Linked DNA regions of Homo sapiens: region 2 is linked to region 1. The links come from fine-mapping of genetic effects on gene expression. A gene starts in region 1. The other region holds a variant in brackets. All regions are shown on one strand. Distances are from middle to middle. Region 1 holds the start of ACAT2 (acetyl-CoA acetyltransferase 2). Region 2 has its middle 12 kb from the start of WTAP.

Evidence for each region.
Region 2: its variant is fine-mapped to the expression of ACAT2 in whole blood (TOPMed, PIP above 0.99).

What each region holds. Positions count from the first base shown.
Region 1 is chr6:159,759,248-159,764,621 of GRCh38, reverse strand. It overlaps ACAT2 (acetyl-CoA acetyltransferase 2), which reads right to left and starts at 2,577. Exons shown (of 9, transcript NM_005891.3): 1 at 2,480-2,577; 2 at 1,569-1,703. The coding sequence starts at 2,534. SOD2-OT1 (SOD2 overlapping transcript 1) reads left to right here and starts at 2,290. Exons shown (of 2, transcript NR_037166.1): 1 at 2,290-2,628; 2 at 2,986-4,364. It also overlaps a transcript of SOD2 not described here. RefSeq lists enhancers at 696-1,196, 3,265-3,324 and silencers at 2,605-2,754, 2,775-2,834.
Region 2 is chr6:159,712,475-159,717,848 of GRCh38, reverse strand. It overlaps a transcript of SOD2 not described here and the pseudogene HNRNPH1P1. Among named protein-coding and RNA genes, the nearest start is that of WTAP, 12 kb to the left of the region's middle. The variant G/TG (reference allele first, on the strand shown) is at 2,373.

The DNA.
Region 1 (5,374 bases):
ATTTAAAAAATTAGCCAGGTGTGGTGGCCTGCTCCTGTAATCCCAGCTACTCCAGAGGCTGAGGTGGGAGGATACCGTGGAGCCCAGGAGTTTGAGGTTATAGTGGGCTACGATTGATTACACCACTGCATTCCAGCCTGGACAACAGAGTGAGACCCTGTCTCTTTAAATAATAATAATAATAATTAATTAATTAATTACGAGTGTTCAAACCCAAAGAATCAGAAGATGGGGGCACTCTCAGGACTCAGCTATATTCCTCTGGGGAGTGATATGCCCCATTTGCAAGGGGCATGATGTGGCACCTATTTTCCAAGCTCAGAACTGAGCCCTAAGAGGGCAGGGAACTTACCTGTATTGTTGGAACCATACTCCCAGCACTAAGCACAGTATGGGGCACATAGGAGGAACTGAATACATTTTTGTTGAATGAGTGACACTTTGAGGTAGTAAGGAGGAGCAGGCATACTTTCCTATGCGTCAGGCTGGCCCTGCTGCTGCTTCTTCTTCTTCTTTTTAAAAGGAGTCTCACTCTGTTGCCCAGGCTGAATGGAGTGCAGTGGCACAATCTCAGCTCACTGCAAGCTCCGCCTCCCGGGTTCACGCCATTCTCCTGTCTCAGCCTCCCAAGTAGCTGGGAATACAGGCGCCCGCCACCACACCCGGCTAATTTTTTGTATTTTTAGTAGAAACGGGGTTTCACCGTGTCAGCCAGGATGGTCTTGATCTCCTGACCTCATGATCCGCCCACCTCGGCCTCCCAGAGTGCTGGGATTACAGGCGTGAGCCACCGGGCCCGGCCGGCCCTGCTTCGTAAGAATGAAAAGGCAGTGGGCCGCCTGTAGTCCCAGCTACTCGGGAGGCTGAGGCAGGAGAATGGCGTGAAACCGGGAGACGGAGCTTGCAGTGAGCCGAGATCACGCCACTGCACTCCAGCCTGGGCCACAGAGAGAGACTCCGTCTCAAAAAAAAAAAAAAAAAAAAAAAAAAAAGGAAAAGAAAAGGCAGTGTAGGTGGTGTAGGTCAGTGGTCTAAGTTCATTCACAAAAAGCATATTAATGAAGCTAAGTCTTTTTGTTTGTTTAGAGAAGGGGTCTCACTCTGTCACCCATGACGGAGTGCAGTGACACAATCACTGCAGTCTCAAACTCCTGGGCTCAAGTGATCCTCCCACCTCAGCCTCTCCAGTAGCTGGGAGGCACAGGCCATCATACCTGGCTATTTTATTTTTTGTAGAGACGGGGTCTTGCTTTGTTGCCCAGGCTAGTCTCAAACTTCTGGACTCAAGTGATCCTTCCTCCTCCGCCTCCCAAAGTGCTGGGATTACAGGCGGGAGCCACCCTGCCTGGCCAAGAAGCTGAGTCTCAAGCTGGATAGAAGCTACTGACAGGGCTGGAAGAAGGGGGCCAACAGGAGGAATCATAACAGAGGGAACTCTGAGCAAAAGCAAGGAGGCAAGAACTTGAGTGAGTGAGAGAGTGTGTGAGTGTGTGAGAGTGTGTGTGTGTGTGTGTGTTTATGGGCTGTTTCTAATAAGCCTGACTTCTCCTGGAATCACTGAGACTTACCTGCTGCCAAGACATGTCCAAAGATGACCTCAGACACATCTTCCGGAGCCACAGTGGCCCTCTTCAAGACTTCTTTGATGACAGTGGAGCCCAGGTCCTGGACAGGAACAGCAGCTAAGGCACCATTGAAGGAACCTACAATAGAAAGGCGGAGAGCGTGGACATCACAAGCCTGCGGGTAATACGGGAACCACCTACGAGCAGGGGAGCCTCATGACCCTGTTTGGCAAGGCCACGCGAGGAGGCAGTGCCCTCTCCTCCCACACGTTCCTACACCTGCTGGTCTGAGCAAAGGTCAAGGTGGGTGCCACAACTCGCAGCAGCCGAGGGCTGGACAGGCGACCTCCAGAACGGCCTAGGGACGCCGCTGTAGCCCTTCTATTTCCCCAAATCCGAAGGACTGGATGCGACCCCATGCTTCCCAAACAAAAGGAACCGGCGGGTCAAGGGCGTTGAAAACCATGCGGCACGAAGGAGACGAAGTCACGACTTCTAGCCATTGTGTGACAGCCCGACCCCAGCCCAAAGCCGGGCTCAGACCACCTAGCAGTTCCGCCCCTGCCGCAGGCATTACCGATGGCGCCTCCCGGAGCCGGCCAATCAGGGGCCCCGGAGGAGAACACCTCCCTACGCCAACCAATGGGAGAGGCAGGCCACGCGATGGCTCTACCCCGGGAGCCAATCCAAGCACGAGGGACGGAGTGCGCACATCGGGAGAGGAGAGGGTGGGGCTGTAGCACCAGGTCAGGGAACGCGGGAGCCGCAGGGTTCCAGGGATCCCGCGGCTCCTCGCGGCTTGGCCTGACCGGCTTCCTCCACATACGCCCCTCTCCTACACAAGTCCGGCCCTCGGCGCTCCTGCCGAAGCAGCAGGCGCCTCGGACTCTGCGCGGCTCCCGCCGGCCACTCACCTATGATGGTCCGCGCCGCCGAGACGATGACCACAGGATCTGAGCCTGCATTCATCTTGCTTCTCCTGCCGCCGTCTGCCCTGCGCTGCCTGCAAGCTAGGCAAAGCTCCTCCTCGCAGCCCACAGGCCTGCCGCGGGCGGGACCTGAGGTAGCCCCGCCCCTCGCCCTCCACCTCCCCGCGCACCACCTCCCCGCGCATCCCACTGTGCGCAGGCGCAAGGCCGGAGCAGGGGCGGGCGGAGGCGCGCGGGGCGCGGGGCGCGGGGCGCGGGGCGGAAGTGAGGCCGGGGCGCGGGGCGCGGGGCGGAAGTGAGGCCGGGGTCTGGGCTTGCGGGCAGAACCGCGGACCTCGGACGCATTTACAGAGCGCCTGAAACCCCAGTGTTTCTGGACACCCCAATGTTGGAGTTCCCCGACTTGACGTCTTGGGCTTTTTTTTAAAAAATCTTAGGGTTTCTCGAAACAGTAAAGACTGGGGGGTGACAAAGACTTATCTCTCGTTCAGCTCAGGACTGGAATCCCACGGGCGAGAATCTCGAGTGCGAGCCCGGCCCGCGGCGGGTCTCAGCACAGCTCTGATGGGTCCTTTTGCTCTCGGCGGCTTCGGGAGGTCCTATGCGTTTCTCCTGGCGCCAGTCATTCGCTCGCGTGAGGGGCTTGCTAGGAGCGTCTCGGTGCGAGCCCCCTGCCTTCTAAGATCAACTCTGGCTGTGAACGGGTGAGGACGCCGGGAGCGTCTTAGCGTCACAAAAGTTCCTTTGGTTGACGTTTGGACAGTGAAAGGAGCATGTAACAAGTGGGGTCAGTTTTGTTTAAAACCCTTTCTGACTTCCCAGCCTCTTACTGGGCAAAGTTCATAATTTTTCTGAGCTTTCTAGGGTTTCCAGGCAAGCTTATGAGGGGCCACCGTTACAGCAACTTGTTGGGAACACCTGGATAGTGGAACAAGAAAGCTTTGTCACAAAGTCATGAAGGGGAAAACTGTTGACGGACCTGGAGAATCTTCCTGAAGAACTTTAAAGTTGATTGAAAGAATCATTAAATCCTGGAAACCTACATTAAGACTTTGCAGAGATATGCGGATGGGTCAGATAAATCAGAGAAGGTAAAGAGTGTAGGCCCCAGAGGTGGGGCAATAGAGAAGGAAAAAAATTGCATAACAGTGCAATTTCAGGAGAAATCTTTAGGGTCTGGAATAGTGGTGAAATCAGCTGTCTACTCTGCTAAGAACTCAGCAGCACACTGAAGTCTCTTCAGTTGTCTTCAATGTGTTTCCTGTCCCCTAACATATCTGAGTCCAAGGAATTCAAGGAATGCCTCCCGTGGCTTTTGCTCTATTCTATCCCATTTTCCCCTTACTCCCTGGCCACTTCTGAGTCTTTGTGGGCTTACTCTCACATCCCCTTAACATGTTCCCCAAGGCTCCTACTTTGCACCAGCTCCCTGGGTAATACCAGTCATTCCTACGGCATCAATCACCACCTGTATACTGACAAGTCTGAAATCCTTACATCTAACCTCGTCTCCTAAGCTGACTGACCCTCTTCATTTAAATTCTTACAAGCACATCAGGTCGGGCACCTTGGCTCACACCTGTAATCCCAGCACTTTGGGAGGCCGAGGAGGGCGGATCATTTGAGGTCAGCAGTTTGACACCAGCCTGGCCAACATGGTGATATCCCGTTTCTACCATAAAATAGAAAAATTAGCCGGGCGTGGTGCCGTGCGCCTGTAATCCCAGCTACTGGGGAGGCTGACATGGGAAAATCGCTTGAACCTAGGAGGCAGAGGTTTCAGTGAGCCGAGATCACACCACTGCACTCCAGCCTGAGCGACAGAGAGAAACTGTCTCAAATAAATAAAATTTCCTATAAGCACATCAAATTTGACATATTGAAACCAAACTCTTCCAGCCTGTTTCTTCTGTAATCTCAGTGAGCAGTGAAACTATCTTCTGTTAACCAAACCAGAAATTTACCTCTGAAACTCCCCCTAAACATCACTTCTTCCAGAAAAACCTTCCAATCTCCTGCATTTGGTGCAGCATCTTACCCCTAACTTCCTCTTTCAACTTACCATGTAATTCCTAGTTTATCTGTCTCCTCTACTGACTACATAAGCTTTCCAAGATGATCCTGTTACACTGCTTTATGCACAGCTCCTAGCACATTATAGGCAGTTATGAATGAACACCAATATTCTTTATGGCCAGTGCCTAGCACATTTGAATGAGTATGAATATATTCTTCTGGAGCCAAGGGATATAGAGTTTCCTGCCTGAAGGCTCTATCTAGAGTAAGTTTAGGAGCCAATCTTGAGAAGGTAATTGCATGCTTCTGCTGAGTGGCCAAACAGAATCTGTCCCCTGAGGAGTCCTCATTATAGCTACTCATATGATTATCTACTCATATGAGACAGACAGAGACTAAGAATAATGAATGAAGGAAAGAAGAGGAATTTTTTTTTTTTTTTTGAGACGGAGCTCGCTCTGTCACCCAGGCTGGAGTGCAGTGGCGCTATCTCGGCTCACCACAACCTCCACCTCCCGGGTTCAAGCGATTCTTCTGCCTCAGAGTCCTGAGTAGCTGGGATTACAGGCCCGTGCCATCATGCCCAGCTAATTTTTATATTTTTAGTAAAGACGGGGTTTCACCATGTTAGTCAGGCTGATCTCGAACTCCTGACCTTGTGATCCGCCCACCTCGGCCTCCCAAAGTGCTGGGATTACAGGCGTGAGCCACCGCGCCCGGCCAGCTGGAAGATAATTTTTAAAATTATGTCTTGGCCGGCCGCGGTGGCTCATGCCTGTAATCCCAGCACTTTGGGAGGCCGAGGCGGGCAGATCACCTGAGGTCGGGAGTTCAAGACCTGCCTGACCAACATGCAGAAACTCT
Region 2 (5,374 bases), 47 kb after region 1:
ATATTAAGTGAAATAAGCCAAGCACAGAAAGAGAAGTACTGCATGTTCTCACTGATAGGTGAAAGCTAAAAAAGTTGATCTCATGGAAGTAGAGAGTAGAATAGCGGTTACTAGAGACTGGAAAGGGTAGGGGTAGGGAGGGGACAGCCAGAGGTTATTAACAGATACAACAGTACAGCTAGATGGGAGGAATAAGTGCTAGTGTTCTACAGCACCATTGGGTAACTATAATAACAAACAATTTATTGTATATTTTCAAATAGAAGAGCAGATTTTGAATATTTTCAGCACAAAGAAATAATAGATATTTGAATTGATAGATGTGCCAATTACCCTGATTTGATCACTACACATTGTATACATGTATGGAAATATCACAGTGTACTCCAGAATATGTACAGTTATTATGTGTCAAATAAAAATAATAATTTTATGGTTAGGCACAGTGGCTCATGCCTATAAGCCTAGAACTTTGGGATACTGAGGTGGGAGAAGTCCTTGAACCCAGGAGTTCAAGACCCTCCTGGGCAACACAGCGAGACCCTGTCTCTAATTCTAAAATAATTATAGTAAAAAAATAAAGATAGAGTTAGGTTTTAAACATTCTGAACTCCTTGGTGGGAGTAAGGAGCATCTGTTGGTCAACAGAGGTAACAGAGGTATGGGTAGCTCAGAGTCAATTATTCTCGGAAACAGGCTTGTCCAGCTACTGGAAAAAAATCCCTTCATTAGGAAAAATAAAGGCACCTTTTGCATGTAATTTCCCTGTCCTGATCCCTGTAATTCTTTCCTAGTTGCCCATTCAGTACAAATAATAGCAGCTTTCTGAAAAGGATTTAGCATGCCAGAATGACTAGGCATTGCTGTACTCCTTCCAACATCTGCTGGGGTATTGTGGCACACACTACTGGGAGCCATGTTCCTCCTCTTGCACAATCTAGGAACTTCTAAATTGTGTTTGAGTCATAGTATCTTCAGGCCAGGAGATGAATTATGGCTGGTGTAAGCCAGTGTTTCTCAACAAGTGTGCTACTGGAATTTTGGACAAGACAATTTGTGTGTGTGTGAAAAGTATCTTGTGCATTTTAGGACATTTAGCATCCCCACACCAACCCACTAGATGCCAATAGCACCTCTCTGTATATGTGACAGCTGAAAGTGTCCCTTTCTATATTTTCAATACTGCCCCCTCCCGTCATGCCCTTGATGAGAACTGCTGGTCTAAGGCAAGCATGGCTGTCATGGTCTTTACCACATAGTGATGGTGCTCAGTCTTCTTGCAGGCAGAGTTGGCCAGTTGAGCAGTTCTGGCTGGGATCAGAGGAAATCTCTCGGGGCTTCTGAGAAAAATTTTCCTTCCGGGGAGAGGCACATGAGGTGAAATGTTTTCCCCCTCCCTTCCTTGTTGTCTCTTACTAGGCTGTGAGAGGCTGTGCTGCTTGCACCTATAGGAAACATCTTGTGACGATGAGGCAACAAGTTGGAAAATGAAAGCAGGCTGCTGGGAATTCAGAGTCAAGAATGGAAAGTCCCTGGGTCCGGGATGACCTTGTTAATCTTCCAGACTCACCAAGGGACTGCCAGTTCTTGTACTTTTTATTAGGTAAAACAGATATGTCCTTATATTTAAAACCACTGTTCATCAGGATTCCTGTTACCCATAGCCAAACACATTCTAACTTAGAGAGGAAGGGCATTTACATGATCAGCAAGTGAAATAAAATGGAGAGGTGCCAGCAAAACTAGGTTTTTCTGTGACACTTTGCTTTATTGTTGTTGTTTTTACATTATGATGTCCATAGCCCTTGTTTCACAATAAAGCAAAAATTTAAAAGTCATTATTCATTTCCAGAAAACCAAACTTTTATAAGACAAAAAGCTAACTACAATAAAAATATAAGGGTCTTGAAGGATTTTATTTTCAGAACTTTTTTTTTTTTTTTTTCCTTGAGACAGGGTCTAGCTCTGTTGCCCAGGCTGGAGACCAGTGGTGTCATCTCAGTTCACTGCAGCCTGCACCTCCTGGGCTCAAGCGATACTCCCACCTCAGCCCCCCAGGTAGCTGGGACTACAGGTGTGAACTACCATACCCAGCTAATTTTTGCATTTTTTATGGAGACGGAGTCTCACCATGTTGGCCAGGCTGGTCTCAAACTCCTGGGCTCAAGTGATTCTCCCACCTTGACCTCCCAAAGTGTTAAGATTACAGGCGTGAGCCACCATGCCTGGCCTATATTCAGAACTTTTCAAAATACTATTCTGTTTGCCTCTGTTGCTTGCTAATAGTGTTTAACCTTATGGATGCAACGGTAAGATCCTGTTTGGTCAAACCTTCAGTCAAATCTCTTCAGTTTTTAAAAGGACGGTTTTTT[G/TG]TTCCCCACAAATTAAAGACCCACTAGGACAGGAGACAGTCCATTCAAAAACTATGTGACTGTTGACAAACTGTAAATCCATTCTTCTGCCAGAGGAGAGCACTGGGCCTTAAGCAATGGTTCTACTGTTGACCACACTGACTTCCTGTTAGACATGTTTTTGTTGCTCTTCCCTGTTTTTCTTAACCTGTAAATAGTTTTCTCTATCCCACTCATTTGGGTCCCAGTGCCACTGGCCAATCCAGGTCTTCAGCTTTTCTTGTCGACTAACAGTGGCCCCCCAATTGGTCCTCTGCCACCCATCTTTGCTTCCCATCCAAACTCTCTCCTACACAACAAGCCCTTTCTAAACACAAGTCTGGGAAATTTCCACTCCTGGGAAAATGGACTAGACATACTTTTCCATGTTCCTCTCACCAAGTATGGCTAAAAATCCTGAATATTATATGTAAAACAAGCAGAAGAAGACTGAAAGGCAAACTGGCTATGGACTTCAGGACCCAAGGACTGACACAGGAATGACTCCCTGTGTTTCATTTTTGCCTCATATATCCCAGAAGCCAGCAATCTGTACACATCAACAAGCACAGACAAAAACAGCCACCAGCAAAAGCCTCTTATGTATAACTAAAGGTCCAAGAAAGGAGGCAGTCTACCAAGACAGAAAACCTTTAGACAGTAACTGCTCTACTCCAGCCAGACAACAGAGAAGAATCTGCAGCCTACCCCCATCCACTCAAGCAAAGGCTTCTGATGAAAATGCCAGTGGGCTGTGATGTGATTAGTTAGGCAGGACACCAGGGTAGGCTTATCATAATCTGGGCACACAGAATTGCAGTCATTTGGCACACCTTTTCAACAAAGTGAAAAACAGGAATTGCTTTATAGTACCGTGGGAAAGAGTACCGCCTGGCGATGAAACGAGCAAAACATCTAGAGGCTGTGCTGCTGAGCCTGCTGGTGGAAGTCAAATCAGTGTTGGTTCTTAAAAGTTCACTACCCAGGCCCTGCCTGGGGAGTGAAGTAGGGAGTGTACAGTCAGGAGAAGGGACTGATGGAATGTGCGGGTCTGTTCCCGATGGAAGCTAGGCTTATCTTCCCTTGGAGGGAAGAATCCGTATGTAATATGTCAGCCAGTGTGGGACTCAGGGAAGTCCAAGGTCATTGGGTTTCTGGAGGGAAAAAAGAATAGAGGAAAAGGTATAGGCAGAGATGATGTTTCTTTGGTCCTCACAACCCGACGTCTAGGGAGGTGAGGGCCTGTATTAGTCTTATGTGACAGATGGGACAGCAGAGGCACAGAGAAGTCAGATGGCAGCAGAGATTAGAGGTAAAGCCGGTGTGCTCATGTGATCACTTGCTTATGTGAGCAGAAGTAGTTCTGCTTGTCATCTTGCTATAGCCCATTTGAAGGCAGAAGGAGGATAATTGCCCACTACACCAAAATTGCATTCCGCCAAACTTGCCACCAAGAGCTCAACAGTCGCCACGATGCTGAGCACGGAAGGCAGGGAGGGGTTCGTGGTGAAGGTCCAGGGCCTATCCTGGTCCTGCTCAGCTGATGAAGTGATGCACTTCTCTGATTGCAAAATACAAAATGGCACATCAGGTATTTGTTTCATCTACACCGGAGAAGGCAGACCAAGTGGTGAAGCATTTGTTGAACTTGAATCTGCAGATGAAGCGAAATTGGCTTTAAAGACAGAGAAACCATGGGACACAGATACGTTGAAGTATTCAAGTCTAATAGTGTTGAAATGGATTGGGTATCGAAGCACACAGGTCTGAATAGTCCTGATACTGCCAACGATGGCTTCGTCTGGCTTAGAGGACTTCCATTTGGCTGTCCAAGGAAGAGATTGTTCATTTCTTTTCAGGGTTGGAAATTGTGCCAAATGGGATAACACTGTGAGTGGACTTTCAGGGCAGAAGCACAGGGGAAGCCTTTGTGCAGTTGGCTTCGCAGGAGATAGCTGAGACGGCATTGAAGAAACACAGGGAAAGAATAGGGCACAGGTACATTGAAATCTTCTAGAATAGCCAAGCTGAAGTTCATACCTACTATGATCCCTCTCAGAAGCTCATGGCTGTGCAGTGGCCAGGTCCCAGTGATAGGCCAGGGGCTGGCTGAGGTGTAATAGCATTGGCAGAGGAGCTGGGTTTGAAAAGATGAGGCAGGGTCCCTATGGTGGAGGGTATAGAGGCTATGATGACTATCGTGGCTGTAATGATGGATATGGCTTTAGGTCTGATAGATTTGGAAAAGACCGCAATTACTGTTTTTCAGGAATGTCTGATCATAGATACGGAGATAGTGGGTCCAGTTTCCAGAGCACCACAGGGCACTGTGTACACACGAGGGGTTTACCTTACAGAGCCACTAAGAATGTTATAATTTCTATTCACCTCTTAACCTCATGAGAGTACATATTGAAATTGGACACGATGACAGAGTTTACTGGTAGGGCAGATGTTGAGTTTGCTGCTCACGAAGATGCAGTGGCAGCTATGGCAAAAGACAAAGCTAATATGCAGCACAGGTACAGGGAGACCTTTTTAAATGCTATAGGAACAAGTAGGGGGGTTTATGAACACACCTATGTAGAACTTTTCTTGAATCTACAGCAGGGGCAAGTGGTGGTGCTTATGGTAGGCAAATGATGGGAGAGATGGGCTTACCCAACCAGTCTAGTTATGCAGCTGAGTGGTGGTTGTGGAGGTGGTTATGGTGGTCTGAGTAGTGTGAGTGGTGGTTATGGAGGTGGTTATGGAGGTCAGAGCAGCTGAGTCGTGGTTATGGAGGTGGTTAGGGTGATCAGAGCATTGTGAGTGGTGGTTATGGAGGTGGTTATGGAGGTCAGAGCAGCTGAGTGGTCGTTGTGGAGGCGGTTAGGGTGATCAGAGTAGTGTGAGTGGTGGTTATGGAGGTGGTTATGGTGATCAGAGCAGTGTGAGTGGTGGTTATGGAGGTGGTTATGGAGGTCAGAGCAGCTGAGTGGTGG